2 separate regions of the Homo sapiens genome follow, and region 2 is linked to region 1. Evidence: fine-mapped expression QTL. Tissue or cell type: aorta. Region 1 holds a variant in brackets; the other region holds the start of a gene. All regions are shown on one strand. Distances are from middle to middle.

What was found. PIP is the estimated chance that this variant, and not a neighbour inherited with it, causes the effect. A credible set is the group of variants that fine-mapping cannot tell apart.
Region 2: it holds the start of CCDC3, and the variant in region 1 is the best candidate, but not a certain one, in a credible set for the expression of CCDC3 in aorta (GTEx, PIP 0.54).

Annotation. Positions count from the first base shown.
Region 1 is chr10:12,938,314-12,952,727 of GRCh38, forward strand. The region is part of intron 2 of CCDC3 (coiled-coil domain containing 3); the gene reads right to left. Among named protein-coding and RNA genes, the nearest start is that of CCDC3, 56 kb to the right of the region's middle. The variant A/G (reference allele first, on the strand shown) is at 3,314.
Region 2 is chr10:12,994,588-13,010,026 of GRCh38, forward strand. It overlaps CCDC3 (coiled-coil domain containing 3), which reads right to left and starts at 7,126. Exons shown (of 3, transcript NM_031455.4): 1 at 6,610-7,126; 2 at 3,751-3,925. The coding sequence starts at 6,983. RefSeq lists enhancers at 6,255-6,755, 6,756-7,256.

The DNA of each region.
Region 1 (14,414 bases):
TAGCCCCCAGTCCTCTTGTCATTGTAGCAATGACATCAGTAACCACATGGATAATGCATCCAGCACTGGCTGCCACACTTGGCTTCAGCTACTTTCTCCTGTGGCTATCCCCACTGCTACGTCATCAGCTGGAACTATTTCCCCTTTGGACCACAACCTTCTAGAGGCAGTGCAGTATAGCGTGAAAAACTTTGGCTTTGATGCCTGGGTACGAATCCCAGCTTTGCCATGTACTAGCTAGGAGACCATAGACAAGTTACTCAATCATTCCATGCTTATAAGATGTGAATAACAGTAGTCCTATCCCAGAGAGTTGAGTTAATGTGCAAAATACAGAACACTGCTTGGCACACAGAGCTATTTATGCACTGGCTTCCATTACTATCCTTTCTGATTGCTCGTGCCTTCACTTCTTTGGTTCCTTGAACTCCTCCCACCCTCTTTTTCCCTCCAAAAGTAACTATTGTAACTATTTACTCCTGTCTTGTGCCTCCTTCCCTATCCAGCCACACTGTCTCCTATATAATGCCTGCTTAATAGACATTTGTATCATGGGTGAATGAATCAAGGATCCATAACCTCACCTGCGTTCTGGTCCATAGCCCCAATCCCCTTGCCTTCTTGTCTTTTAAATAAACACACACAATAAATATGCCAACCCCAGATCTAACTCTAGCTCCACTATCTTCTCTCCTCCTATCTCTGAGAGGTTGGCTGCATCCACTACAAATTCAGAATCTCCAGCCTCAATTCTGCCCAGCCTTTACGTGCCTCAAGTCAGCTCTCTTTCCCAGTCTTTACAACAGTGACTTTTAGCCTTTAACGCTTTCCTATCACTTCCGCATTCGCCCTTATCAATGACCTTGCTTCCTACTTTATAAATCTAGTGTTTCCAGGCCAGTGGACAAGGTGTCCTTCTGAGTAAGGTAAATTCCTACTCCCGTGTTCCAACTTCTGTCCAGTCCATCAGACCTGAAGCTTTTAAGCTGCACGAGAAGAAATCTTTCTTTATATTTTATAATAACTGTTAGTAGAGGCTGGGTGCAGTGGCTCACGCCTGTAGTCCCGGCACTTTGGGAAGCCAAGGCAGGCAGATCTCAAGAGTTTGAGACCATCCTGGGCAACATGGTACAAACCCATCTCTACTGAAAATACAAAAATTAGCTAGGCATAGTGGCATGCACCTGTAGTCCCAGCTACTTGGGAGGCTGAGGGGGGATGATCGTGGCACTGCACTCTGGCCTGAGTGACAGAGCCAGATGCTGTCTCAAGAAAATAAATGTTGGTAGTATTCAACAGATGGTAGGAGCGGATCAATTCTGTCCAGATGAGATACCCTGGGAAAGCGGATCAATTCTGTCCAGATGAGATACCCTGGGAAGGCCAACCTCACATGGGGATTATGCAGAAAAATTGCTTGATATGACATATTCTGATCAAATAGTAGTAATTACCCAAAAGGGTAATGAAATCAAGGCCTGGCCAATCTCTTTAAGAGTCAGAGTAACAACAACAACGACAACAAAACCCTCTTCTTACAGCCAATGATTTAATAAAAATTTCAACCATTTTGCTAATTCACTTGGCTAATTCTAAGAATTTTCTGAATTTCAAGATTGTTAGCTATGGGAATAGTTCAAAGGTCGGAGGCCTTTAAAAATAGCATTGACCTGGTCAAGATGGATTAAATGCCCATTCTAGGGCCTTAACCCATTCTAATTCCACTTCTGTGTTAATATATCTGACCTAAATGTCTAAAAACATACTGTTTTTTTTCTGAGAAAGTGCAGAACCCCATTGGTGGATGTTTTTACATAGAAAAGAAAACAGCTTAAAATATATCAGACTATTTCAGTTACAGAAGCAACAACCCAAAAAGAAAAAGAAGGCATCTGGAGAAAGAATCATTGAAATTGTTTTTTTTTTTTTTTTTTTTCCCTGAACCAAACTCCAGTTTACTGTTTTTCCTGGGAATGTGATTTTATAGTTGGGAAGTGAGATGTTGGCATGGTGGCTGACATTTCAAGTATATTATTGGTGCACAAGAGAATACAATGAAAAGATCAGCAAGAACCTCAAAGTCTATGGCCTCTTGAGAGTTATATTAGGAATGGATGAGCTTAGATGTCTACAGAAGTCACCTTAAGGGTTAGGGTGGTTCCCTAGTCAAAGGAAGAAAATCAGGGAGGCCTGAAGTATAGTAGAAATAAGATAGGATCCGGGGTCAGATACCCAAGTTTGAATCTTAACCACTAATTAGTTCCATGACTGTCCAATCATAACCTTGTAGAGCCTTACCTTACAGAATAATCGTATTTACTTCCTATACTGGTGGTACCGAGCAAGAAGCTAAGTAATAAGTCAATCATACGTAAGAGGTAGGCAATTTACCCTTCTCCCTTGCCTTCTGCACATAAATTTAAATGAGGCAGAATTAAGTGAGAAAGAGCCTATAGCCTAACCCTCCATGTTCCAAGTTCTGCAGAAGAAAACTGATCAACAGGGAAGAACCTGACAAGATGCTGGGAAGGGGATCTGTGGACTTGACAAGGCTTACCCAGCACTGTCCAGGGACAGGAAAGGGAGGCACTGAATTTAGATCCCTGAGTAGGAATTGCTGATCTTTGCACTTGTGATACTCTGTGGGTGTGGTCAGACATGTATGAACCAGAGCGACTCCATTTTGTGTAGAGGCTGGGTAATATAAGGCTGAGACCTACTGGGCTGCATTCCCAGACAATTCAGGCATTCTAAGTCACAGGATGAGATACGAGGTCAGCCCAAGATAAAGGTCATAAAGACTTTGCTGATAAAACAGGTTGCAGTAAACAAGCGGCTAAAACCAACGTGGTGACGAGAGTGTCCTCTGGTGGTCCTCACTGCTACACTCCCACCAGTGCCATGACAGTTTAGAAATGCCAAGGCCACATCAGGAAGTTACTGTATATTGTCTAAAAAGGGGAGGCATAAGTAATCCACCCCTTGTTTAGCATATTACAAAGAAGTAACCATAAAAATGGGCAACCAGCAGCTCCCAGGGCTGCTCTGTCTATGGAGAAGCCATTCTTTTATTCTTGTACTTTCTTTCATTTTACTCCATGGCCTCGCCTTGAATTCTTTCTTGCAGAAGATCCAAGAACCCTCTCTTGGGGTCTGGATCAGGACCCCTTTCTGGTAACAGGTGGGCTTCAGAGGGCTATGTGCACATCTTGGCACTGAATACAAATGTTGCATGTATATTAATGTACTTATCTGGGAGAGGATTCATCACCAGACTCTCAGAGGAGTCTGTGACCAAGAAAAGATTAAGATG[A/G]CTGCACCAGATGCTGAAGGGAAGCTAAGACATACTAAATTACAGGAGCCCATGAGTCTGAGGTTGAGTTCCTACATAACTTAGTATAAAAACAAACTGGGTTGGGAAACCACTGATCTAGCCAAGTTAGTCTCCAAAATATGCCGCTTTGGCATAAGGATTATTTCTAGCTGGTTATTTTGAGACCCCTTTGTAATAGAAAATTCCATCTATTAAGGAAGGAGATCTCCATTTGTAAGAGTGCCTTCCTCTCTGCACCAGGAATAGGAGGAGGACTAAGTAACTAAAGAATGGAGACGGCCTTGAATCATCTACTTCAAAAGTCTTACCTTTGTTGAAGGCGGTTTTCCTGACCATCTTCTTAAATGGGCCTTTACCTATACCCTTCTTTCTTTCTTTAGGTAAATGATAGTAATTAAGCCAGAAGTCTATGCTCTATGCCTTTGAGATGTCCATTTTCTCTCTTGTTTTCTCTAGAACCTTACAGCTAGCCCTTTGACATGGAAATTTTAAGGGAGATGACTCATCAGAAGAAAAATGACATTTGGGCAAATGAAAATTCTTGTCTTTTCCACAAATATTACTAAAAAGCTTTGCTACCAGAGCAAGTAATCTTAACTTCTTCCATCTGCCAGAAACATAATTGGAATTCAGCTATTCTGTAAAGTAGTAAATTTTGTGGGTTTTGTATCTGGTACTGATACAGGAGCTAAAAAGAAATTTAGGCAGTTGGTGAGGGTAAAAGTCGTCGGCAAAGTTTCCCTTTTAATAAAAAGCAGCTCCAAAGTCATTTCTTTTCTAAGAAAGAACAGTCTGCAAAATGAAGCTACAGACATAGAAAAGCAAGCTGGAAGCTTGCACGGGTGAATGCTGGCAGCTGTGCCAATAGGAAGAGGCTACCTGGGGGTGAGTCATGTTCAACATGGACGCCCTATCTTCCCTTTTCTTTGTCAACCACATGTACAGTAATGAAGCAGGCAACATGGCACCGGCCAGGTAGAGACCCCATCTGCATAATAAAAGATTAGGGTGGGGTGGCCAGCTTCTTCACCTGCTATGCAAGTGGCACACCTGGTCCTACCAATCTTTTGTCCCCTGTGTAAATCAGACACTGCCTCCTCAAGCTCTTCTATAAAACCCCATGCATTTCACCACAGAATCAGATGACCCACTTGGGAGCCCCCCTCTCTCCAAAGGAGAGAGAGCTTTTCTCTTTCTCTCGCCTATTCAACCTTGGCTCTTAAACTCACTCCTTGTGTGTCCTCGTCCTTGATCTCCTTGGTGTGAGGCAAAGAACGTGGGGTATTACCGCAGATGAATGACGCCATTTCAGTACATGCCTAAATTTTAAAATGAAACCTACAACAGAGGGCTCTGTCTTTATGTTTATTTCTCTCTGTAGGTACGTATGTGTGATTTTTTTCTATCTTCAGATGGTATTACCAAAATTAAGTTATAAAAGAGCTTTATTTAATTGGCTTAAGCGCTTATATAAATTAAGTACTCCTTAAACTCTTAGGAAAAAAATGAATCCAAAATACCTTCCAAGTTTATGTGTTCTAGGATAATCTTTGGTTAAAGTTTGTCAGTTTAATGAAAATAGAGTGGTCAGCATTAGATAGTAAACCAAAAAATACAATTCTAAGCACCCCCCCGCAAACGACTACATGGAACCCCCATCTTGGCCAAGGGAACCCCGAAGAAATGTGAAAAACTAGTTTAGGCCATGATGGTGATGAGGTAGCTAAAAAGAAATTATTTAGGCAGTTAGTGAGGGTATGAGAATCCTCGGTAAGGTTTCCCTTTTAACAAAAAGCAGCCTGAAAAATCAAGCTGCAAACACAAGCTTGCATAGGCAAATGCCAGCAGCTATGCCAATAGAAAAGGGATACTTGGAAGCCAGGTATATTCAACATGGAGGTTCCCTCCTCCCTTTTCTTTGTCGCCACATGTGCAGTAGAAAGGCAGGCAACATGGCGCTGCCCAGGTAGAAACCCCATCTGCATAACAACAGATTAGGGTGGGATGGCCAGCCTCTTTGTGTACTATGTAAATGGCACACCTGGTCTGACCAGTCTTCTGGGCCCTATGTAAATCAGACACCGCCTCCCCAAGCTTGTCTATAAAACTCTGTGCATTTCGCCACAGATGAGACGACCCACTTGGAAGACCCTCTCTCTCTGCAGGAAGAGAGTTTTTCTCTTTCTCTCTATTAAACCTCTTCTCTTAAGCTCACTTGTTATGTGTCCACATCCTTGATTTCCTTGGCATGAGATGACGAATCTTGGGTATTTACCCCAGACAACGTTGCTGCTACAATGGGAAGGGACAGGTTCCACTGGCCTCATTTCACCCTCCTCCCTTAAGAGTTGACATACAACCGACCAGTGTTAACATTAAAACAGGGATCTTAAGACTGACAAAGCAGAGTCTTTGTAGCAGTAAGATACCAAAGTGACTCCAGTAGAGTACCACATGACAGATAACAGGCCCTGAAGGAAATTATTTTACCCCAAAATATATTTCTTTGACATATTCCAAAATGGCCCTACAAAGCTCTCTCTCATGGGGGAAACTTGTGTTCCATTGAGAATCTCCTTCCCTTACTAGAGTCTGATACATTTTAGGGTCCAAGAAGACATTCACCATCCATTCTCTCTGACGCCTGCTACCTGGAGGCTTCATCTACGTGACAAGAACCTTGGCTTCCACAACCCCCTTCTCTAAACACAAGCGTTTTTTAATGCTGAATTCAATTCTTCAGGCAGAGCTTAACTCTTTCAACCAACTGCCAATCAGGAAATGTTTGAATCTGCCTCTGACCTGGAAGCCCCTGCTTTGAGATGTCCTGCTTTCCTGGGCCGAATCAATGTATTCATTTCATCTATTGATTTATGTCTTTGCCTGCAATGTCTGTCTCCTTAAAATGTATAAACCAAGCTGTAAACCACCCACTTTGGGCACATGTTCTCAAGACTTCCTGGGGCCATATAATGGGCCATGGTTCTTAACTTAGGCAAAATAAACCTATAAATTGATTGAAACCTGTCTCAGACACTTTCCAGTTTAGAAATATAATACAGACTCATAACTTTTCCTACCTATGTTTACTAGTAAAATAAGCTCATGTTACCTCTGTAGTACAAAATTTGTTAGCAAGAAAAATAACTTAAGGTGACGGATACTTAATGTCTCATTGTCATGAGCAATCCAAGTATAATTGTTAAGAACAATGAATTAGATGTAGGAAAAATATTCCCATGGGAAAGGGGTCTTCCCTATACTAGAAGGTTTTAATATTCTTACCAAGGATGGAAGTTCAGGCTGAGGAAAATGTGTACAAACAACAATTTCATTCTCAGGCCTAGCCAAAAATTCTAATAAGGATAGAGATACAACTTTCCCTCCCCTATAGCTTTTTATTAGAGACTAAAGATAGCTGAATCTGTTAGTAAACATGTTCTGTGTCACAATGAAAAAAATTATTCTATGAGGAAGCACATGCTTCTAGAAATTATGATTCATAAATTTGTCAATCTACAGACAGCTAGTGTAATAGGGTTCACAACTGCTTGCTTCCTTTCACTGGAAATTAAGATGATTTAGTATATAACTAAAATTACCAGAAATAATACGGGAAACAACTCTATATGCAAGCATACAAAATAAGTAAGATGAATTTTCAGAAAATCTATAAGGTAGGAGAATGTGTTTTGTTAAAGGCAAAAAGAGAATAATTTTTGTCCTAAAATAGAATGGCATTGTTCCACAGTGAGAAAAAAAGTATAGGGAAAAAAAAAACCCCGAATGGATATAAGAAAACTGTAGGATGCTTGTAAAAGTAGAATCATGGGAAAGGAATTATATGTGTGATCAAATTCCTAATATTTGCTAATATTTGAAGGGAATTAAGTTGCTTTTAAATTCTAACATTAATATCAAAAGTACGCTGATACAAAACTAGAATGTGGTCCTCTGTGTTAAAACAGCAAGGTTTTCTTGGAGTTCTAGTCTGCTCTTAATAAGATAGGGTAAAAGGTTTTTCTTTACCTTTTAAGTAATTGGTCTAGGAAATAAAGACTGTTTTATCAAGATAATTTCCCGTGCTTCATGTTGTCTTTGCTCTTCGATTAAGAAAATGGAATCATTTCTAGTAAAAAGAACTAAGGTTTTTCTATAACTATGTTCAAGTTATTTAAGATAACAAGGTTGCCTTTGACTATCTGTTGGCTGAATGGGGTGCAGTGTGTGTGTGATAGCTAACACCTTCTGCTGCACTTAGATAACAAACAGGCAACTTGGTTAAAACAAGTAGATTCTTCTGCCTAATTCTTTGGTTTAGTTGGTTGTAATTGGTTTGGTTCATGGGTGCATTGGTTAAGGAGCATATTTCAGTCTGTTAGTACTATCCTCCTGATACGTCATCATAGTAGTATCTCTAGGGCACTGTATTCTCTCAAGAGTCTTAAATGCGGCCACCCATTCTGCCCCAAATGGCCTCACTCCATTTATAGCAGCAAAACCACAAAGGGAACATAACAAGTCATTCAACAGACTTGATGTCATGGCTTGTGAATTCCATACTGAAACCAAACATGTCCACTATGATAGTGACTGACAGGCAATAGCATCAGTGTCTAAGGCTGCGTCAATGTCTGAGCATCAGTGTCAATCTTGAGAGGCTGACCAAAAAGGGGAAATTGTTCAACTAGCAGAGGCTGTCTCTGTACTGTGAGTTTCTACATAACAAACTGCACCTTAATTTATTAGTATGTAAACAAACTGAAAACTAACTAACTTAGGAGTATTTTTTTTTGGTAACAAATAGCCAGGTCTCAGCAAATCCTAGGCAGCCAACTGATCCGATCATGCCCAATAAGACAAATGCCCAACTGTGGCTAATCAGGTCATTTCTCTACTTTGCTTCCTGTTCGGCCTAGAGCAGCTCATGGTTCACACTACTAAGCAGAGCTCTCTGAACCTATTCTGGTTCTGAGTGGTGCCCGATTCATGAACTGTTCTTTGCTCACATTCTGTTAAATTTAATTTATCTACAGTTTTTCACAGGTATTGTATTTCACCATGCCCTAAGACTCAAAAACTCCATTTGCTATTGTAGCAGGAAAAGGTGTTCTTTCTTCATTCTGTCTTCTGCCTTTTCCCTCCTTTAATCAACATGCATTTTCCCTCCTATTTGGGAATTATTACCTTATTTGGTAATCATCTCATCCTGTACTACCTCAAAATTATACTTTCCTAAAGATCCTGTCACTACATTCAGCCCCCTCCGCCACTAGCATAAGGGAGGATGGAAGCCAAGAAGAAATAGAAAACCGAACGGAAAAGCAAAAGACAGAGGCCAGCTCTCTTATTGCTGGTTTTCCTTTTTTGTTTCTATCTCCACAGTTTATTTTCGGTCAAAAATTCTGCCACCCACAGCTCTGTCTCCTTAGTTTTTTGGAGTGCCTGATGTAGTTTCAAAGTAATGTAACATTCCCATTCTCATCTTTTGCTCACTTTTTTTTTTTTTTGTTTTTTGGAGACAGGGTCTTGCTTGGTAGCCCAGGCTGGAGTGCAGTGGCATGATCTTGGCTCACAGGAACTTCTGCCTCCCAGGTTCAAGTGATTCTCCTGCCTCAGCCTCCCAAGTAGCTGAGATTACAGGCGCCCACCACCACACCTGGCTAATTTTTGTATTTTCAGTGGAGACATGGTTTCACCATGTTGGCCAGGCTGGTCTGGAACTCCTGACCTCCAGTGATCTGCCTGCCTTGGCCTCCCAAAGTGCTGAGATTACAGGCGTGGGTCACCACACCTGGCCTGTTCACTTCTATACAACAAATATTTCATGAGCTTCCACCATGTGCCAGAGTGTTGGGTGCTAAAAATACATGAGGCACTGATAAAATGGCCTGTGACTTTGTCACCTCAGCTACAGGCCACCCTATATGGTGTTTTATATTTTCAAGTAGATTATACACTCCCTGTGGACGGGAATCTAGATCTTCTAATTATTTTGAGCCAGGCAACAGGAGCTGGACAAACAGGAGATACTCAGTACCTGACTGAGTAGAATACATTGCTAAGAGTTGGGCTTAGCAGTAACTAATAAATTGATAATTAAGTGCCTCTTGTATGAAGAGATGAGTTAGAGGAGAGCAGTGGATTGACTTCCTTTAAGTCCTTACCAACGGGTCAGGTATTGTGCTAAGCACGGCCTCCTGACAATCCTGTGGTGTGCCTGCTCTTATTAGCATTGTCCCTCAGCTCATAGATGGGAGAAACAGAGGCTCAGAAGACAGACCCAAGATGTCTCACCTATTAAGTGAAATTGGAAGACCCAAGCTTTGAACACATGCAGCCTGACTCCAGAGCCCAGCTCTTGGTCGGTGATACAGTTTGACTCTGTGTCCCCACCCAAATCTCACCTTGAATTGTAATAATCCCCATGGGTTGTGGCAGGTAACTGAATCATGGGGTCAGGTTTTTTCCATGCTGTTCTCATTATATAAGTCCCACGAGATCTGATGGTTTTATAAAGGGCAGTTCCCCTGCACACACTCTCTTGCCTGCCACCACATAAGATGTGCCTTTGCTCTTCCTTCGCCTTCCACCATAATTGTGAGGCCTCCCCAGCCACATGGAACTGTGAGTCCATTAAACCTCTTTCCTTCATAAATTACCCAGTTTTAGGTATGTCTTTATTAGCAGCATGAGAACAGACTAATACAGCCCATATACTAAACTGACTCAGGATATGGAGGAGACCAGGGCCTCTCTCTCAGGCATGTGTGATATCATGGTGAAGAGTTTGATGTGGCTAAAGGCAGGCAGACAATTGCACACACACACACACACACACACACACGGGAGGGGCCACCTTCAGCTCCAGAACCCCGTGTGTTTTCTCTACCTTTGGGACTTTTCCTAGAGTTGAAAAAGTGTATCTCTTTCTTCAACTCTAATGTGAGAGTCATTGTCAAATAGAGTTTGCCCTTCTTTAGACCACTGGTCCAACACCTTAAATTACTAGAAGCGCTAAATTTGGTGACCAACTGAAGACGAAAAGGGGTAAAAATTTAAGTCCTCATTTTTAAGGCAGTTTTTTTTTTTTTTTTTTTTTTGAGACAGAGTCTTGCTCTTTTGCCCAGGCTGGACTGCAGTGGCCTATCTCGGCTCACTGCAAGCTCCACCTCCCGGGTTCACGCCATTCTCCTGCCTCAGCCTCCCGAGTAGCTGGGACTACAGGCGCCCACCACCATGCCCGGCTAATTTTTTGTATTTTTAGTACAGACAGGGTTTTACCGTGTTAGCCAGGATGGTCTTGATCTCCTGACCTCGTGATCCACCCGCCTCGGCCTCCCAAAGTGCTGGGAGGCAATTCTTTTATATCTCATGACATTATGGGGATACCTACATAATGTCCTCAGTAGCTGGGCCATGAGTGAACTGCAACATCACAATTTTGGGGGCTCCTGGGAGCAAACACTGCTGGTTAGCTAAATAGCAGAAGAGCCAGACACAACTGCCAGTGTTCCCCTTGTTTCCTCCTTAGTAAAAGCTGCTAAGAGAACTCTGTAACTGGGCACATGGCTGCCGGGAATAAAGACCACATATCCCAGCCTGCCTTGAACCGGGTGTGGCCACATGAGTAAGTTTTGGCTATGGGATATAAGCAGAAGTGGTGTGCACAGCTTCAGTGAAGTGCTTCATAAAGGGAAAAAGCATGTCCTTCTCTTACTCTTTTTTCCTTCCTGTTGGCTGGAATGCAGACGTGATATGGCTGGAGCTGCCATCTTGGACCAGGAGTTGAACTTAGCCACGGAGGCCATGCTCAGTGGAGCCACCCGATGGAGGGATCTGACACTGTGGAGTTCCATTCCAGCCTGGACTTCACACAAGAGAAATAAACATCTACCTGAGCCAGTATTACTAGGGTTTTCCAATACTGAAGCTGAGCTGAATCCTAAAGAATACACACTACTTTCCCCAACAAGATACATAACTGCCTTGCTTGCTGAGAAAAAAATTATAATCGCAGGTTCACTTTCCTAAATCAATGTAAGTAATAGCCTGGCCTGGCTCTTTTCAGGAGATCCTATCAGATCCTGAAGCAAAAGACTATTCCAGTCTTAATACCAGTATATCTGGGTTTTCTGCCCAGAGGAAAGTGCAATCATGACTTCTAAGGAAGCAAATGGTAATGGGTGCAGAGACTGTCAAGAAATTAGGTGGTGAAATCAGGCTGAGGTCATCTCATCTAATGTATATTTGGTGACCGTGTAGACCCAGAGATACACACTTCAAAGCAGCCATGTGGTATCCATATCTGTGTGCCTACTTTGGGTTCACACACCTGTGTTCTCTCCTAGTTGGTGCCACCTGTCACATCCAAGCCCATCATCACCTCCTGTGCTCATCTCTGCTGTCTCTTCTCCATGCCTTCACTCTGGCCATGCCCCCAGCCTCCCATTCCCTTTCCTGCATCTACTGTTCTCTCTCCTTGTAAAAGCTTTCCTTGCCCAATCCAGACCACATGGGTCCTTTTCTTGTCCCATCTCCTATAGAAGCTGTTACCAGTGCCCTGACTAACCCAAGGCCTTCCTCTGCCTGCTGGAGCTTAATAATTATTGAATGCATGAATAACTACACATGACAAATAAGGCCTCAGGTGTAAGAGTTCAAGCTAACAGGAAATGCTCTCCAAAGCACCCTCCGGAAAGCAGTTTTAAGAGAAAGAGATTCAACCTAAATGGTCAGGAGGATGCTCTTCCCAGGGGTTTGTTTCAATTAAAAATACAGGCATCTGCTGGGATTAAAAAGCAACAATCTAAAGAATTCATCCACCACCCCATCAGATTCTAGCCATTAAGACTGAGATCAGTTCAGATGCAAAGAGCAGAACGAGGCAAATTGTTCTCTACTGAAACAACATGAAATGCTTTCATACTTTGGGGTTGGTGACCCTAAAAACCTTGCACTTGGTTATCATTTTTTTCTCCTTATCCTGGACTTTGACTTCCTCTCCTGTATACTGTTAGAACACAGAAGGCAAATGCAAACATTTCTACAGTTCCTGACTCCTCGCCCATGTCAGAAACCCTTAGAAGCACCCACATACCACACAAGCTCAGACCTGTGGGCTTCTCTAGAGAAAGGCGTCATGACACAATCACATATTCAGCACTGACAGACTCTGTGAGGAAGATATGGGGGGCTTGGGGGTGGCTGCTCCCCCACCACACCTGACTCCATTTAATGCCCAACTGGAGTAATCATGACAGGTCAGCCTAGGTCACCTTGAGAGGGGCTGAGTCTGCAGTAGGGTGCGTCTGTCTGGCCTTCCTCGATAACACGAAGGTTGAGCTTTCTCTGGCTCACTCTGCACAGTAGCTTGGGTTAGAAAAGGCCAAGCAGGAGCTGAGGCAATCAATCAGAAAGTATTCAGTGAGCACTGTGAGAAATAAAAAGTTTAGGCCAAGCACAGTGGCTCATGCCTGTAATTCAAGCACTTTGGAAGGAATACTCGAGTCCAGGACTTCAAGACCAACCTGGGAAACATAGTGAGACTCTCATCTCTACAAAAATAATTTTTTTTAATTAGCTGGACATGGTGGTGTGCACCTGTAGTCCCAGGTACTCGGGAGGCTGAAGCAGTAGGCCAAGCTAGAGAGAGCTGTGATTGCACCACTGCACTCCAGCCTGGGTGACAAAGTGAGACTGTCTCAAAAAAAAGTTTAAAACCCATTTAAGGAATGTTTGACCTAATGCGATGGCTCCTAATCTACAGGGCATGATCCATTAGCAGTGGGCTGTGAAATCCATCCGGGGGTCTCTACCAGCATCTGTAAATAAAGCAGGGTGGACAGGAAGTATCAGGCATCATTTATGCAGTTTTGTGACACTCTGTGGCTCACGCCTGTAATCCCAGCACTTTGGGAGGCTGAGACGGGTGGATCACAAGGTCAGGAGATGGAGACCATCCTGGCTAACACAGTGAAACCCCGTCTCTAACTAAAATACAAAAAATTAGCTGGGTGTGATGGCATGCGCCTGTAGTCCCAGTTACTCAGGAGGCTGAGGCAGGAGAATCACTTGAACCTGGGAGGCGGAGGTTGCAGTAAGCTGAGACTGAGCCACAATACTCCAGCCTGGACAACAGAGTGAGACTTCATCTCAAAAAAAAAAAAAAAAAAAAAAAGTTGTTCTTTGTGTGGGCTACAGCCCAGAGCACATGGAAGCCACTGATTTCATACACAGTGGAGAGGGATCGCTGGTGTTTTTGTAAGAACTCCTCTTTTTATGTCTCTTGTGCATTCACCTTCCAAGAAACTCAGTCCCTGTCTGTACCATGTCTAGTACAACCTTCTGGTATCTTCACCATAGGCCACGAGTATACCCTTTGGACAGATAAGGAAATAAAGGTACAGAATAGAAATGACTTCTAGCCACTTCTAGCCGCCTAGAGAACATAGCCAAACTGATCGTGCCCAAATCAGGTGAGACCAAGAAACAGGCTCATGTGGTTCTCCCCAGACCATGAACATATTATCTAGCAGGCACCAGATAGAATGTGACCTCAGGAGGGAGAAGGTTTTGTTGGTTCACTGCTCCATCCTCAGTTCTTAGGATAGTTCCTGGCACAAAGTAGGCCCTCAATAAATATTAGCTCAGCAAATCATTATGACTTGATGATAGAATGAATTAGGACAATCCCCAAACTCAAAAATAATCTTTTACGGTCATGGACCATGTATTGAACCCAACAAAGAAATCATGTTTCATTGAGGTGCAAATGAATATACTCAGGTAGACTGAGAGAACAAAACAGAACCCAGAATGTATTTCTCTCCAGCTTGAAATGTTTTGATGGCATTCCATCATCTAGAATAACTCCCAGACTAGCCCATGATGTGTCTTCACAGCCGAGTTCCCCTCTTACTTTCCAGTGGCAACTTCCTCCTCCTTGCCCCATTTTGAACTTCATCCTTTGGCATTGATGAACGAATCCGAATTCTCCAGGTGCATGTGGCTATTTTATGACTTGGTGACACTGCAAATTCAGTGTTCTCTGCCTGAGATTCCAGTCATTTTGGGAGCC
Region 2 (15,439 bases), 57 kb after region 1:
ATTAACAAAAGTCTAACATCTATTCTTACTGGAATAAAAGAGTGATCATAACAGCAATTCTGACCCCTCCCCTAAGGTTAAGGAACAATGTTGACTGCTTCTGACATAACATGGTGTATTTATCCTGGGTAGGATAATTTGATGCTTGCCTTCCCACAGAAAAAGAAACGCTTAAAGTTTTTGGGTTTTTTTAAGAAAAAAGCAGCAAGTAGGCCAGGCACGGTGGCTCACGCCTGTAATCCCAGCACTTTGGGAGGCTGAGGCAGGTGGATCATCTGAGGTCAGGAGTTCAAGACCAGCCAGGCCAACATGGTGAAACCCCCTCTCTACTAAAAATACAAAAATTAGCCAGGTGTGATGGCACATACCTGTAATCCCAACTACTTGGGAAGCTGAGGCAGGAGAATCACTTGAACCCTCGGAAGTGGGGATTGCAGTGAGCCGAGATCATGCCATTGCACTCTAGCCTGGTCTACAGAGTGAGACTCCATCTCAAAAGAAAAAAAAAAAAAAGAAGCAAGTAGTAGTCAATAATTCACAACTATTTTAATCACTCCAGGGTATGTAAAAATATCTTAGGGAGCATCAGAAAACTTTAAAAAGTCAATGTAATTTTAATTTCAAATTAAGTTTTAAACTAATGGGCTAATTTTTCTTGTTTTGCTTTGTTTTGAGACAGAGTCTTGGTCTGCTGCCCAGACTGGAGTGCAGTGGCACGATCTCTGCTCATTGCAACCTCTGCCTCCCAAGATCAAATGATTCTCCTGCCTCAACATCCTAAGTAGCTGGGATTACAGGCGCGTACCACCATCCTCAGCTAATTTTTGTATTTTTAGTAGAGATGGAGTTTCACCATGTTGGCCAGGCCGGTCTTAAACTCCTGACCTCAAGTGATCCGCCGACCTCGGCCTCCCAATGTGCTGGGAATACAGGCGTGAGCCACTGCAATCAGCCCACAATGGGCTAATTTTATGTAGCTTTGATGTGGTCCCTTTCAAAGTGGGTAGGGAGTAAAAACGGCACAAGCAGAGGTCTGGAAACGTGCAGAGTCCCTCAGATTGAACTAAATTCTGCTCCACAGCAGCTCAGCAAAGTGAAATAATGATCTTCCTCACCTCAAGTTTCCACTTTTTCTCTGAGCCTGGAATGCTCCCACACTTTGTTATCTAAGAGGCCAGGGTGATTCAAGGGAAAGGGAAAAGGAATTCTCCCCCAAGATCAACATCTGATCAACAGAAATAGATCTGCCTTCAGGCTGAAACAATTCTCCACGGTCCCATTGTTCTTTGTTTTTCCCAAATGATGGAAAAATCTAATTCCAGAAAAATGTTAGTAGCTAGATTGTGACCATAGTGCTAAGAAGTTATGTAGCTTAAGATTTTAAGGGCTAACCTATTAAAGATCAGAATAATATCTGATCTCTTGACATAAATCTATTATATAGTCATATAAACAAAGCTCCCACAAGATGGGGAACAAAAGGGCCAAGCCTAAAAAGCCTTCGCTTGGAAGAAATTAAGTATGACTCGGGCTTGGGATGCTCAGGCTTAGACTTGCTGGGTCCAACTCAATATGGAGTAGGCAACAGTAATGATTAAGAAGGAGAAAAGGAAGAATAAAAACAGGTGCTTAGAACCACATTGGGAGCAAACTACATGAGAAGCGTTCAGAAAGTTCTAACTTTCTAACCATCAGGGAGGGGTTAGAAAAGTCTAGACTGCTGTCAGTAGGGCAGAGCTGAGGAATGTATGTTTGTTTGTTTCTTTGAGATGGAGTCTTACTCTGTCGCCCAGGCTGGAGTGCAATGGTGTGATCTCGGCTCACTGCAACCTCCGCCTCCTGAGTTCAAGCGATTTTCCTGCCTCAGCCTCCCGAGTAGCTGGAATTAGAAGCACGCACCACTCTGCCCAGCTAATTTTTGTATTTTTAGTAGAGACAGGGTTTCGCCATGTTGGCCAGGCTGGTCTTGAACTCCTGACCTCAGGTGATCCCCCCACCTCGGCCTCCCAAAGTGCTGGGATTACAGACATATGTCAAAGAAGAAGAAATCCTTTCCCTTAGTTGGACGTACCAGCCCTTCACAGGAATAGCTTCTGTGCAAGAGCATGAAGAAGGCCTCCAGGGTCCAGGGAGCCCTGGGAGAAGCTCCCTTTGAATCTCCCTTTGAAGCGGGTTTGAATCCTGTCCTTTGCAGACATGGATGCAGCTGGAGGCCATTATCCTAAGCAAATGAACGCAGGAACAGAAACCCAAACACTGCATGTTCTCACTTATAATGGGAGCTAAACATTGAGTACACATGGACACAAAGATGGCAACAATAGACACGGGGGCCTACGTGAGGGTGGGAGGAGGGTGAGGATGGAAAAACTACCTCTCAGGTACTGTGCTCACTACCTGGGTGCGAAACGATTGGTATACCAAACCCCAGTGGCACGCAATTTACCCACGTCATAAACCTACACACGTACCCCCTGAACCTAAAATAAAAGTTGGAAGGAAAACAAAATAAAAAAGACAATAAGGGGATTCGGAAGAACAAGGCAGCTACCCTAGGCCATCCCACCAGACAAGAGAAAGACACTTCCCTCAAACCCTTCTTGATGGGTGGAAAGAAGGGAGTCTCTTAACATGTGCAAATGGGTTCGTTAATGGAAAAAAAAAAAAAAAGTCCTTATTCCATGTGATACCCACATCAGAACTCTCTCTCCAGCAGTGTGTCACATTGCCCTAAAAATGTCTTCAATCGGGGACCGGAAGAGATGGGTCACAGCCCCAGAGGCCTAGACTGGCCTGGCCCCCACTATCATCCCAACTTGGTTGTGGCAAAGCCCATTGCTTTGGAAGAGTGATGATCATCAAAATGTTCCTCCAACTCTGGCATTTGGCCCAGATCGGAAGACTCTTTTATATTTTCATTCCCAACCCTTACGATCCCGACCCTTACATTTTGCAACCACCTTGGCCATCCTGCACCTCTATGTCTTACCAACTATAGTTAAGAATCACAGAAGTGGTAGCTATGATAGCAATTTCATTTCATTTCCCTCAGCACTTTTCCTTTCCTCTAAGACAATTTCTTAGGGCCCTGTGCTGTCCATGACAATCATACACAGTCAGGAACAGTCGTAACGGCTCACATGTATTGAGCACTTACTCTTTTAAGCATTACGCTAACGGATTTACATAATTATAGTTTTTACATATTTAAATCATATTGCATTAGCCCTCTGACATAGATCAGGGGTGTCCAATCTTTTGGGCCCCATTGGAAGAAGAATTGTCTTGGGCCACACATAAAATACACTAACACTAACGATAGCTGATAAGCAAAAAAAAATTGCAGAAAAATCTCGTAATGTTCTAAGAAAGTTTACAAATTTGTGTTGGGCCACATTCAAACTGTCCTGGGCTGCAGGTTGGACAAGCCTGATATAGATGCTACTATTGTCCCTGTTCTGTAGAAGAGGAAACTGAGGCTCAGCATGCCAATCTTCATCTCATCTTGTTCTCATACTTTGGGAAGAACTCCTTATCCAACAGTAAAGCTTCAGGGATCCAAAGTTTATGAATGGTCTTTTTTAACAGCTGGGAGGTAAGGAGGGATAGCAGGAGAGAGAGAGGGCATACGCTAATACTCTCTGATCTGGGCTTTTGGAAGAGTATTCTTGATTCCTTTGGTCACAAAATTCACACAAGGTGTAGCTATACTATTGTTTTGCTGTGGCACAGGATTTAGCCAATTCTTACCCTACTGTCTTCCTGGATTTCCCAGTCACTGGAGAAAGTCGCCAGCTGCTGCCCTTGCGAACAGTTTGAAAACTGGAAAAGGCTAGAAAACATCCTTCTGTTCTCTTGAGTGTCTGGGAAGATGGCATCTTGGAAATTGACTCCGTGAGGCAAGAGGTTATAATTTTCATCCATCCTAATGGAGGAAAAAAAGGCAGACATGTAGGCTAGACAGTCAAGGGTGTACCAGCTCCAATCCAGAGTCACAGACAACTGCAACGGGCTTGCCAATTTCACATCAATGTCTGGCATGGCTCTCATTAGAGGAGTTACTACTTCTAATTATTTCTTTGTCTCACGCTACATCAGTCTATCCTTAAGGTTTTCAAAAAGATGAGTTTGAGCAAAGTATGGAGAAAACTATGTGTATGGTGCCTGTTTGTCTATTTGTGTTGTCTTCCAAGTCCCCCAAGGGGTCTTCCTTCTCAAAGAGTGTTCCTTATTTCCTGGTGAAAAAAAGGCCAGCTGTCATCACCTATGTTTAAGTTCTGTCTTTGCTATTTATCTTCTGTATGACATGAAACAAATGTCTTAACTCCTCTAAGCTTCAGTATTCTAATCTGCAAAAAGAATATAGTACTGGCTAGGTGCGGTGGCTCACACCTGTAACCCCAGCACTTTGGGAGGCCAAGGCAGGTGGATCACCTAAGGTCAGGAGTTCGAGACCAGCCTGGCCAACACAGTGAAACCCTGTCTCTACTAAAAATACAAAAATTAGCTGGGCACGGTGGCACACACCTGTAATCCCAGTTACTCAGAAGGCTGAGGCAGGAGAATCACTTGAACCTAGGAGGCGGAGGATGCAGTGAGCAGAGATTGCACCATTGCACTCCAGCCTGGGTGACAAGAGTGAGACGCCATCTCAAAAAAAGAACATATATAAGTAAAAAATAGTACCTACTTTTCTGGTGATGTCATAAGCATTGCATCAAAAACCTAAGTAAATGAAGCACTTGGTACAAAGTAAATGCAGTATGCATGTTAGTGAACACATTTAAAGGCCTAGCATTAATCAATTAGAATGATTCTTTAAAATGTCACAAAAAGAAAGAGATGAAAGTTACACTCCAGTCTACAGAAAACACGTAGGGCTCACCAGCAAGTCTCCGTTGCCACCCTCACCCCTGACAGTGACCACAGGTCCAGTTTCATCTCAGTGGGTCCCAGAATAACAGAGAAGGAATGATTTGTGTGTAGTTGTTAACACACTCCAAGGCAAGACAGCCCTGTGAAATGAAAATGTCAGACTACTGTCTTTGTATTTCTGCCCTAACTTTTGTAAACATGGTAGAGCAAAAAAGATGAGAATTGGCTGAGCACCACGGAACTATTGGACAAACTGTATTTCATGATAAAAATTTCTTTAAAAAGCCTGCTCAAACACTTGGGCTCTTTTTCCTTTGGAGAACAAAGTTCTGGTTTTGAATAGTTTTATAGATGGTTTCTCAGTATCTTTCCTAATTAAAAACATGAAACCCTAAGTTTCTCTGTATCGAGAAGGGCACTCTCTCAGTCTCACTGGCTTTATTTAGAAACTACACTTCTCTGGAAATACATACATATATATAAAAACTTAATCTAGCTGAACCACTCAAGCCAACACAAAGCAAGACGTGTTTTTTAAACTTAGATATTCTGGCTTCAATATGGAAAACATGTGTTGCCATGCACTTACAAACACCACTTTGTAGAACTGTTTTCTTTCTCAGAGAAATGCGAGCTAAAAGTGAATCTGCAGACCCACGTCAGCCTCATTCCAAATATCCTCAGTGCTACTTCCCAGACTGGGAAAACGAACTACAACCGATCACCCCAACAGTGGATTAATTTACTATCTTGATAGATAGGTTAGATTCCATTTTGATGTTTTTCTCAGTTGTTTTATATCACTCTCCAAATTCCAACTGAAGCTAACCAAAGAATTTAGAGTTCTACCTGGCACTCTCTATTCAAATTTCAGAAGAATTCAGTAGTCAATGAGAATTGACTGAATTCTTAGGCAGATGCATTCCATCTTGACCACAGGCCAAGTTCTGAAGTTCATGGAACTTCAGAAGATTCCAGTGGTCTATAATCAAAGAGGACCTCCTGGCCTGGTTCACCTCTCCACTCCTCAAAGCATTGCTACCCAGGATTTTACCAGCAGCAGAACCCCAAGCCCTAGTAAACCTTTGCTATTTCAAAGAACCTGGCAGCTGATATGAGACAGTGAAGCAATCCCGGGCTACATTCCACACCATTCACATCTTGGCATTTGAGCAAATGAGGAAGAGGAGAGAGTGGACAGCTGGTCAACTTCTAACCTGCACCAGGTGCTTTGCATGAGTTACGTTCCTCACTCAACCAGCCCTGTCTCTCACTTTACACAGGTGAGGCTATGGAAGTTCTTGAGAAGGTGTCAAGAAATGCGCTCAGAATCACGGTTAGGAAGGGCAGAGCCAAAATGCCAGCCACAGACTGATTTCAAAGATTGTTTTTCTCACCGTCCCAATCTACTCCCACTGAGGCCAGTTTAAAAACCCAAGTCAAAGGGACTGTTGGAGGGCGCTTTGAGCTTCTGTCTGCAATGCTCTTCTGTGTACAAGGCACAGAAACCTTCCCTGTCTTTTAAACCGCCTTAACCAGGGGTAGTCAGGATGTCTGTAGAGACGTCAGACGGAGCAAGAAAGATCCAAGAAGGCAAGGGGTAGGCGCCCCAGGGGCATTCTCACTTGACACCGACAGGCTGCCCGGGGAGTTACCGGCCTGGCTCTAGGTAACGGCGACCTCGGGAGGTGGCGCAGAGAGAGAGAGAGGTGGCGGCGGCGCCGCCGGGCTCACCTGAGGAAGAAGAAATAGGAGTAGTCCTGGACCACGGTGTGGGAGTGGCACGAGAAGTAGCCCAGGCCGGTGAGGTTGAGCCTGGAGCCGGCGGGCACCTCCAGCATGCTGCCCCACGCCTGGTCGCACAGCATCTCGACCTCGGCCGAGTAGAAGAGGCCCCCCTGGCCGGCGTGGTACTGCCAGGGCAGGTGGTTGTAGAGGCCGGGCGCCTCGGGGTGCAGCGCCAGCACCCTGGCGTACACGATGGTCTCGGCCAGCTCGGCGCGGCAGCCCTCGCTCAGGGGCCTCCACTCGGAGGGCAGCTGGCAGGCGCGCGCGGGCGCTGGGGGACCCGCCAGGCAGAGCGCGGCGAGCAGCAGCTGGCGCAGCATGCCGGGCCCTCCCGGGGCGCACGGGGCGGCGGCGGGGAGCCCGGGGAGCCCGCCGGCCCGGGAAGGGCAGCCCTGGGCGCTCGGCTGCTCGGGCCGCTCCCGGGAGCTGAGCGCACCGCTGTCTCCGCCACGGGGCTCGGCATGCCCGGCCCTGGCGCGCCACGCTTTAAAAGGGTCCCGGGGACTGGACGCGCCGGGCGCCCGCCTCCCGCCCTGCCCCCTGCGGCTGGGGCGTGGGCGGGGGAGGGGCGGGGAGTCGGGCGGGTCCCGGCGCCGGCTGGGGCGGGGACCAGGGACTCGGAGAACGCGGGGACGCCGGGACCCAGCCCTGAATTGGGGACAGTGGCCCAGCAATCTCCTGGCGCCCCACGATGGACGTGGTCCGAGCTTGCCAGGCGTAAAGCCTGTTTGCAAACGCAAGGCATTCATTAAAGAATGACTCTTAATTTGCACGATTACTGCCTAAGTTTTTACATTTTCTCTACATTTCAGAGTAAAAATACATAGAAACCAAATCTGACTTTATATTCCCAGAGATTAGGAAATTCAGTGTGGGCTGAGATCTCGTGCTCTCTCAGATTTGCTAGTTATTTAATGAAGATCTTAGAAAAGCTTTGATAAAAGATTCCAAAAAGCAATCATTTGGCCCTGATTTTCTTGGTTTCCATAATCCCTGATTCCATTTTCTAAACACTGTACACCTGAGAAATACATTCAGAAGTAAATCCCAAACAGCTTTTCACATCAGTGAGTGAATTTGAGGATACTGACTCCACAGTTCCATCTTTATCTCTAAAGGCAACAGGTTTTTTGTTTTGTTTTTTGTTTTTTTCTTGAGACAAGGTCTATATCTGTCACCCAGGCTGGAGTACAGTGGCTCCATCAGGGCTCACTGCAGCCTCGACCTCCCCTGGGCTCAGGTGATCCTCCCAGGTCAGTCTCCCAAGTAGCTGGGAATACAAGCACACTGCCACCCCGGATAATTTTTTGTTTTTAGTAGAGACAGGCTATGTTGCTCAGGCTGGTCTCAAACTCCTGGGCTCAATCGATCCTCCCACCTCAGCCTCCCAAAGTGCTGAACTTTCAGGCGTGAGCCCCCACATCCACCCTGAATATTTAAATTATGCAATTTCATAATGCTATTAGTCTCCCAGGGCTGCCATAATAAAATACTCTAGTCTGGTGGCTTAAATAACAGACCTTACTTTCTCAGAGTTTTGGAGGCAGGAAGTCCAAGATTAAAGTGCTAGGGTTGGTTACTGGTGAGGCCTCTCTTCCTGGCTTACAGACGGCCACCTTCTCACTGTGTCCTCACGTGGCCTTCTCTCTGTGTGTGATGGAGAAAGAGTGAGCCCTGGTCTCTTCCTCTTCTAACAAGGTCACTAGTCCTATGGGGTTATCACCCCACCCTTATGTCCTCATTTAATTACCTGCCTGAAGACCCTATTTCCAAATACAGTCACATTAGGGAGTTAGCACTTCAACATATGAATTTGGAGGTGGGAGGGGAGACATAATTCAGTCTATATGAGCTATTTAGCAGGTGTTCTGCAGGTTTGCTAGAGAAAGAGAGCAGGGATCCCAAATGGTTTATATTCCTGGCAGGCAGACTCACAGCACACACTGCCAAGTTATAATAAGAATTGCTAAACCTTAGTCATTGTTGACCATGGGCCAATCACTGTTGTAAGGACTGTACATATGTCATCTTAATAAATTCTCCAAACAATATTCTGAAGTAGATATAACTATTATCCTCATTTTACAGATAACAGGCACAGAGAAGTTAATTGACACCAAAGATCACAAAGCTACAAGTTGACCAAGCTAGGATTCAGCTCCCAGCAATCAGACTCCAGATCCATGTACTTAACTACAACACTAGAATAGGGCCAAATATAGGAAATGCTCTAAAGACACAGGTCGGCCCTTTAACCAGGATATACACAGAGCAAATTAAGAGAAAACCTTAGCAGAGTCACCAATGATGGCTCAAGGAGTGTGCAACTGACCTAACATTAATTTTGTATGACCCAGAATCCCTGCTCTATTTTAGTCCTATACTGTAACTCATCAGATAAGATAGTAAGAAAGTTTTTCTTACTAACTGCATCTTCAAGTGTCTTGAAGGCCTGGAAAAGATTTGTCTACCCCAAAAGACTGTAAGGCCCTCTCTTTTCTTTCCACATAGGTGAGCAAATAAATAAAAATCAGCAAACATGGCTGTTTTTTCTCTTGTTGTATAAACTTGACAGAATCAAAACTCTTCCAATACTTCCCACAGTGTATTTTGCAGAAGTGAGCACCTGCAAGAAATCGTCCTCATGGATTCAGCAGACACATCAGTCATGCTTTTCTCCCCTGTAAGATCTGGCAGAGTGCCTCACTGATTGGGTTTCTCTTCCTGATTGAGCCATTGCAGTGTACCGTAGTGAGCAGTTCCTCTTTGGGGACTAAGACTTCCAAACAAGCAGAGCTCAAGGTAGCCAGGAGGGGAAACAAAACTTCTGTGAGTGAATTATTGGGTTTAATAGTGACATGAGCCACTTCCATCTCTTGATTCCGAGACCTATATGTCCTGGCTGTGGGGTGGATAGTACCGTATATGTATGTTCTGTTTCAAAGCACACACAGTAAGTACACTTTAAGATGGACTCCATCATTTCAGTGTGGTGACTCCCAACTGACACTATAATTAAGTCTTCACTAAACTGTTACATCCTTCAAAATTTGTCCAGTTGCTTCCAGGTGATGGGACATGTGGTAAAACCAGTTAATTCTATGGCCTTGAGACCACTGCTGCACTTCATTGCTGTGAAAGAAGCAATGCTGTGGGAATCATTGATCAGAAACATCACTATGGGAAATTCCATGATGGTGGATAAGGTGCCCCATGAGTCCATAGATGGTGCTACTGGCAGAAGCATTATGGCAGGGAAGGCATATCCGTGTCCAGAATGTGTCTATTTCAGTGAGGACAAATCTCTGACCCCCACCCCCCACCCCAAGATGGAAAAGGTCCGATGGAATCAACCTGCCACCAGGTGGCTGACTAGTTCCCCAGGTGAATGGGGCCACATTAGGGGATCCATGTTGGCCTCTATTGTTGACATATTAGGCTCTCAGCAGTAGTAGTAGTGTTAGCTAGGCCAGCCGTGGTAAGAGGAAGTCCACATTGTTGAGGCAATGAATACCCTCTGTTTCTGCCACCATGGCCACTCTGTTTATGGGCTCATTGAGTAAGCAGTAGAGTGGCCAAGAAAAGAGACTGACAGACACCCACTGAGTACATCAATTGCCCACCTAATCACTAAGAACTTCCCCTCCACTGAATGCACTTTGGTCATCATTCACATGGGTCACAAATATCTTCACACTTGGTAACCGTTATAAGATGTCCATTCATTCACCTCTTCCCAAGATGTCCTTGTCATCAATCTTCTGATCCTATTTCTTTCAAGTCCCTAACCATCAACCAAACCACTAGCAACTGCCCACGAATCAGTGTCCATGTGTACTCCCAGCCCTCTCTTAGTCTAGACATAGCATACAACAAAATCTGCTGCTCAAAGTTCTATCGACTGGGAGAATTTTTCTTCACCAGTGTCCTTCAGGATCACCCATGAGTGAAACTGAGTAATATCTGTGTGTAATACAGAAAAATCTTCAAACCAGTCTTGTTATTTCTTCCTCATTCAACTGGAGTATCTTCAAGAGGCCATAAACCATATGAGTGGAAGAGGCAACGTACCTTCAGAGTCAAAGGAATCTAAGCCACTTGCCCATGCAACTTGCTTGCACCATCTGGACCTGCCCAATCCCAGTCTCTTGGATACCATTTCCATTTAATGGTAGATTGCTGCTGCGCACACATGGCCTTATGTCTAGGAGGGTCATACAACACCCAATTCATGATGAGAAGTTCAGATTACATAGTCACCCAGCATACCATGGTTAGGCATTCAATCTCTACCACAGCCTAGTAGCAAGGGAGATGCTATTTTTCAAAAGGCAAACAGCCATATCCAGAATAAGGCATAGATGTGCACTAAAACCCCAGAGTTTTGTGCTGTGATTTTCCTTCTGGTGCTTTCTAAAGACTCCATACAACATTCCTGTTTGCCATAAATACTTTATCACTGGACCTTCTAGATAATAAGGCTCAAGTGATACAGTGACTTGTACACAGCCTGAACTTGCTGCAGAGACTTCTCAGAACTTGCTCAACACCACTTGAAACTGGCAGCCTTAGAGATAACTCTATAGATGAATTCAAAAAGCATTTTTAAATGTGGCATATGTTCCCTCCTAAATACAAAAAGGCTGAACATACATTCTCCCTCTTTTCCCATTTAGATCATCCAAGGACCAGCAACTTTCCTTTTGCCTTGGAGGAGTGACAATTGAGCCCCCAGAAACCATACTGAGGTGGCAGGTCCCTGAATTTTTGTGGGGCCTATCTCCCACCTTATATCTTACCAAGGCCTCTAAAGTATATGGTGTTTCATGAACATCAGATCCATTCATCATACTGTCATCCATGAGGTAATCCAATGTGATGTTTTGTGGAACGTCAAGACAATCAACATCTCTGCAGAATAAATGTGATAGAGAGCAGGAGAATTGACATAGCCTGAGGCAAAACTGAAAGTATACTGTTAGCCCTGACAGGTAAATGCAAACCGTTGCTGGCAATCCTTGCAAATCAGTGAGGAGAAAAGGGCAGGTCAGTAGCTACGAAGCAAATGCTGGGAGACATATCAATTTGCTCCAGGAAAGATACTACATCTAGGACAGCAGCTGGAATTTTAGCCACCACCTCATTAAGTTCATAGTAGTCTTCAGTCATTCTTCAAGACCCATGCAACTTTTGCACAGCCCAACTGATGAGTTCAGTGGAGATGTGATAACTATCGCCACTTCTTTCAAGTCTTTGATGGCAGCATGGATTTTTGCAATCCCCTCAGGGATGCAATATTGCTTCTGATTTATTCTCTTGGTAGAAATGAAAGTTCTAGGAGCTTCTGCTTAGTCCTTCCAACAATAAAAGCCATCACCCATGGGTCAGAGAGAAAATGTGGGGGTTTGTCAGTTGTCAACTTTGGTCCCTTTGGAGAAGTCTTAGAGGAGGATTTATGGTGTGTGCATGTGGCAATGGTGCAGGGTCCTTCCTCAAGGGCACCTGGCTTACCTTTCAGTCAAAAGGCTCTGTGTCTATAAATTTACTTATGTCTAAAAGCTAGGTAAGGGGCTTCAGTTCCTCTCTGTGGGAATTCAAGTCAGGTTTTCAGCTACCAGAGTTTTTGCTGTTACATAGATCAGGCACTACACCCACAGGTTGCCCACATATTTACTTTCAAGAGACATCATGATCAACTATCCACTGTCAAAGATCTCTGCCAATCGAAACATTCTGATTACTAGTATGCCCCTCCCGACCTTTACGGTAGAGGTACTTACCTTCCCTTTGGCAGTTAAGTGCTGCCGTTTGACCCCTTTTCGATGGCATCATCCTGTACTAGAGTCATAACTTTTCTAGAAAGAGGAGAAACCACAGAGATGTTCAAGGATGCAGTACTTCCTTCATTAATATATTTCTCATTGCTGTCGTGAAGGAAATACCTCTGGGTCATCTTGTGGAATGTAGTTGGCAGGTGGCTGTGCAGGTCACACATCGAGTATTCAGTTCAACCTTCCTAATTCCCTAAGCCTTTGGATTCCCTCCTTTACATTGTTTCAGGGAAGCTCTGGCATCTCAGCCAGCATGGAATTCCTTCAAATTGTAGTCAACCAATCAAGTAAGCTATTAGAGTCACCTCTAGAAGTATATTAAATTTATACTCTCAAACGCATCAAAACAATAAATTTTGCCAAAACTAGTATTATATTCTGCCCACTTTGGTTCTGCCTGGAGTCTGCTGATATATATAGGCAGTCTTGCAATTTCTTTAGTGTCTGGGCTATTTCCTCCTGGATTATAGTGTGTACCTGTCTCCCGGAACATGCTGAGCTTTTACCTTGGTTATACCACTAGTTGAACTTAATTATGACTACAATTGCCTTATAAAAGACACTTCTGAAGCAATAATGGAGCTACCCTCTCTTAAAGATAGACCAAGTATGGTCAAATATGTCCTTTCTTCCCAAAATAATTTTTTTAAAATCCTAATACAAAATAGTGGAAAATATTTTAGTTATGTAAAAAATATTTTAAGTTATTCATGAAAAATAAATGAGTGAGTTCTTCTTCTTTCTTCTTCTCTATCTCTTCCTGAAAAACTCCACTCTAAAAGTCTTTAGCTGGGGCCAAACAAGTTAGGTCTCCAAGCTGGGGCAGGATAAGAGATGGAAGAGACATGCAAGATAGGAGGAGCTTCTGTCTGGGGCTTCCTACTGCAGGTGTGAACCACAAGGGGTGAGGGCATCAATGCAGAGGAGTGGCCCACTATAGGATATGAGAGCCCAAGAAGGGTTAAGGAGAGTCCCTGGAAAAGAAGAGCCTGTCATGTGGTCTCAGGCTCCAAAACCCCATGACAGGGTACCCTGTTATGGGGTTGACCATGTGGGAGGGCAGCATTTGCAGAGACTCAGTGTCTAGGCAATAGTGGCCTCCTAGGCATGCAGCCCAACATGGGTTTCAGAAGCCAATAGGGGTAACATCCACAAGGATGTCAGTGCATGAGCAAGAACAGGGGACTTCCATGTGAAAGGGCATGACCCAGTTCAGAGAATCAGAGCATGGTTAGGGTGAGATGAGTGTCCATGCAGAAGGGCAGCCCAAGCCAGGGAGTCAGAGGCCAAGCAGGGTAATGAGGATGTCCATGTTGGGGAAGGCAGCAGCAGTGCGGTGAATGCCAGACTCCAAGTGTGATGTGGAAGGCATGGCATGAGCTATGGGATGGGAGTAGTGATGGGAGAATAGTTACACACAAGAGGTTGATCAAATAAGCAAATCTATTAAGGAGGATGGAAACCAGTTTCTCACTATCAAAAAAGAGAGTTACATATATGGAAAGAAAGAAAACTACAATGGATCCTGTGGTGGTGAAACATGAATTCATAGATTTTAATAATAGATATAGAAATCAATATAGTTGCATGTGAATTTGTGGATATACACTTTTATCTGTCCCACAAGTCTTAGAAATATATGTTATATGCTTACAAAAAGAGAATTCTTGATAAAACTCAGTAAGTTAGCAATAGAAGGGAACTTTCTCAACCTGATAAAAAGCATCTATGCAGTCTACTGCTAACCTTTCACTTAATGTGAAAGACTGAGTGCTTTCCCTTAAGATCAGAAACAAGACAAGGATGTTCAGTTTCATCACGTCTACTCAACATAGTACTGGAGGTTCTAGTGCAATAATTCCATAAAATAAAATAAAAAGCATCCAGATTGGAAAAAAAGATGTAAAATTCTATTTACCCATGACATGATCATCTGTCTAGAAAATGCAAATGAATCTACAAAAAAGCTACTAGAATTCATAATCAAGTTTAATAAGTGGAATACAAGATCAATATACAAAAATCAATTGTATTCTCTTTACTAACAACAATTGGAAATTGACATTTTTAAAAATAATACCATTCACAATGGCATCAAAATATATGAAATACTTAGAAATAAATCTCATTAAATATGTAAAAGACTTATACATTGAGAACTACAAAACATTACTGAGAGAAATTGAAGAATATTTTGAAAATGGAGATATATATTTTTTTCATAGGTTGGGAGACTCAATATTGTTAAGATGTTCATTCTAGCCAAACTGATTTACAAATTAAATGCAAACTCAATAAAAATCCCAGTGGACTTTTTGATAAAAATTGATAAGCATAGTCAAAATTCCATATGGAATGTAGAGAACTGAGAATAGCCAAAAACAACTTAGAAAATAAAGACCAAAATCAGAAGGCTAACATTACCTGATTTCAAGACCTACTATAAAGCTATAGTAAGCAATAAAGTGTGATTTGGTGCAAACACAAATACCTATGTCAAAGGAACAAAATGAAGTCCAGAAATAAACCCATAAATATATAGATAACTGATTATTAAAAAGCTGCAGAGATAATTCATTGGAAATTGATTGGAAAAAGAACGACCTTTTGAACAAATGGTGCTAGAACAATTGAGGGAAAAATATTTCAGCCCATACCTATCACTGTACACAAAAATTAACTCGAAATATAAAACCTAAAACTATAAAACATCTAGGAGGAAACCTCTGCTAACTTGAGTTAGACAAAACTTAGACATCATCAAAATATCTAATAAAAGAATGAAATATCAAGCCATAGACTGGATGAAAATATTTGCAAATCATATATCTGATAAAGGATACATATTCAGAATACATAAAGAATTCTCAAAACTGAATGATATAGCTGGGTGCACTGGCTCATGCCTGTAATCCCAGCACTTTGGGAGGCTGAGGCGGTTGGAT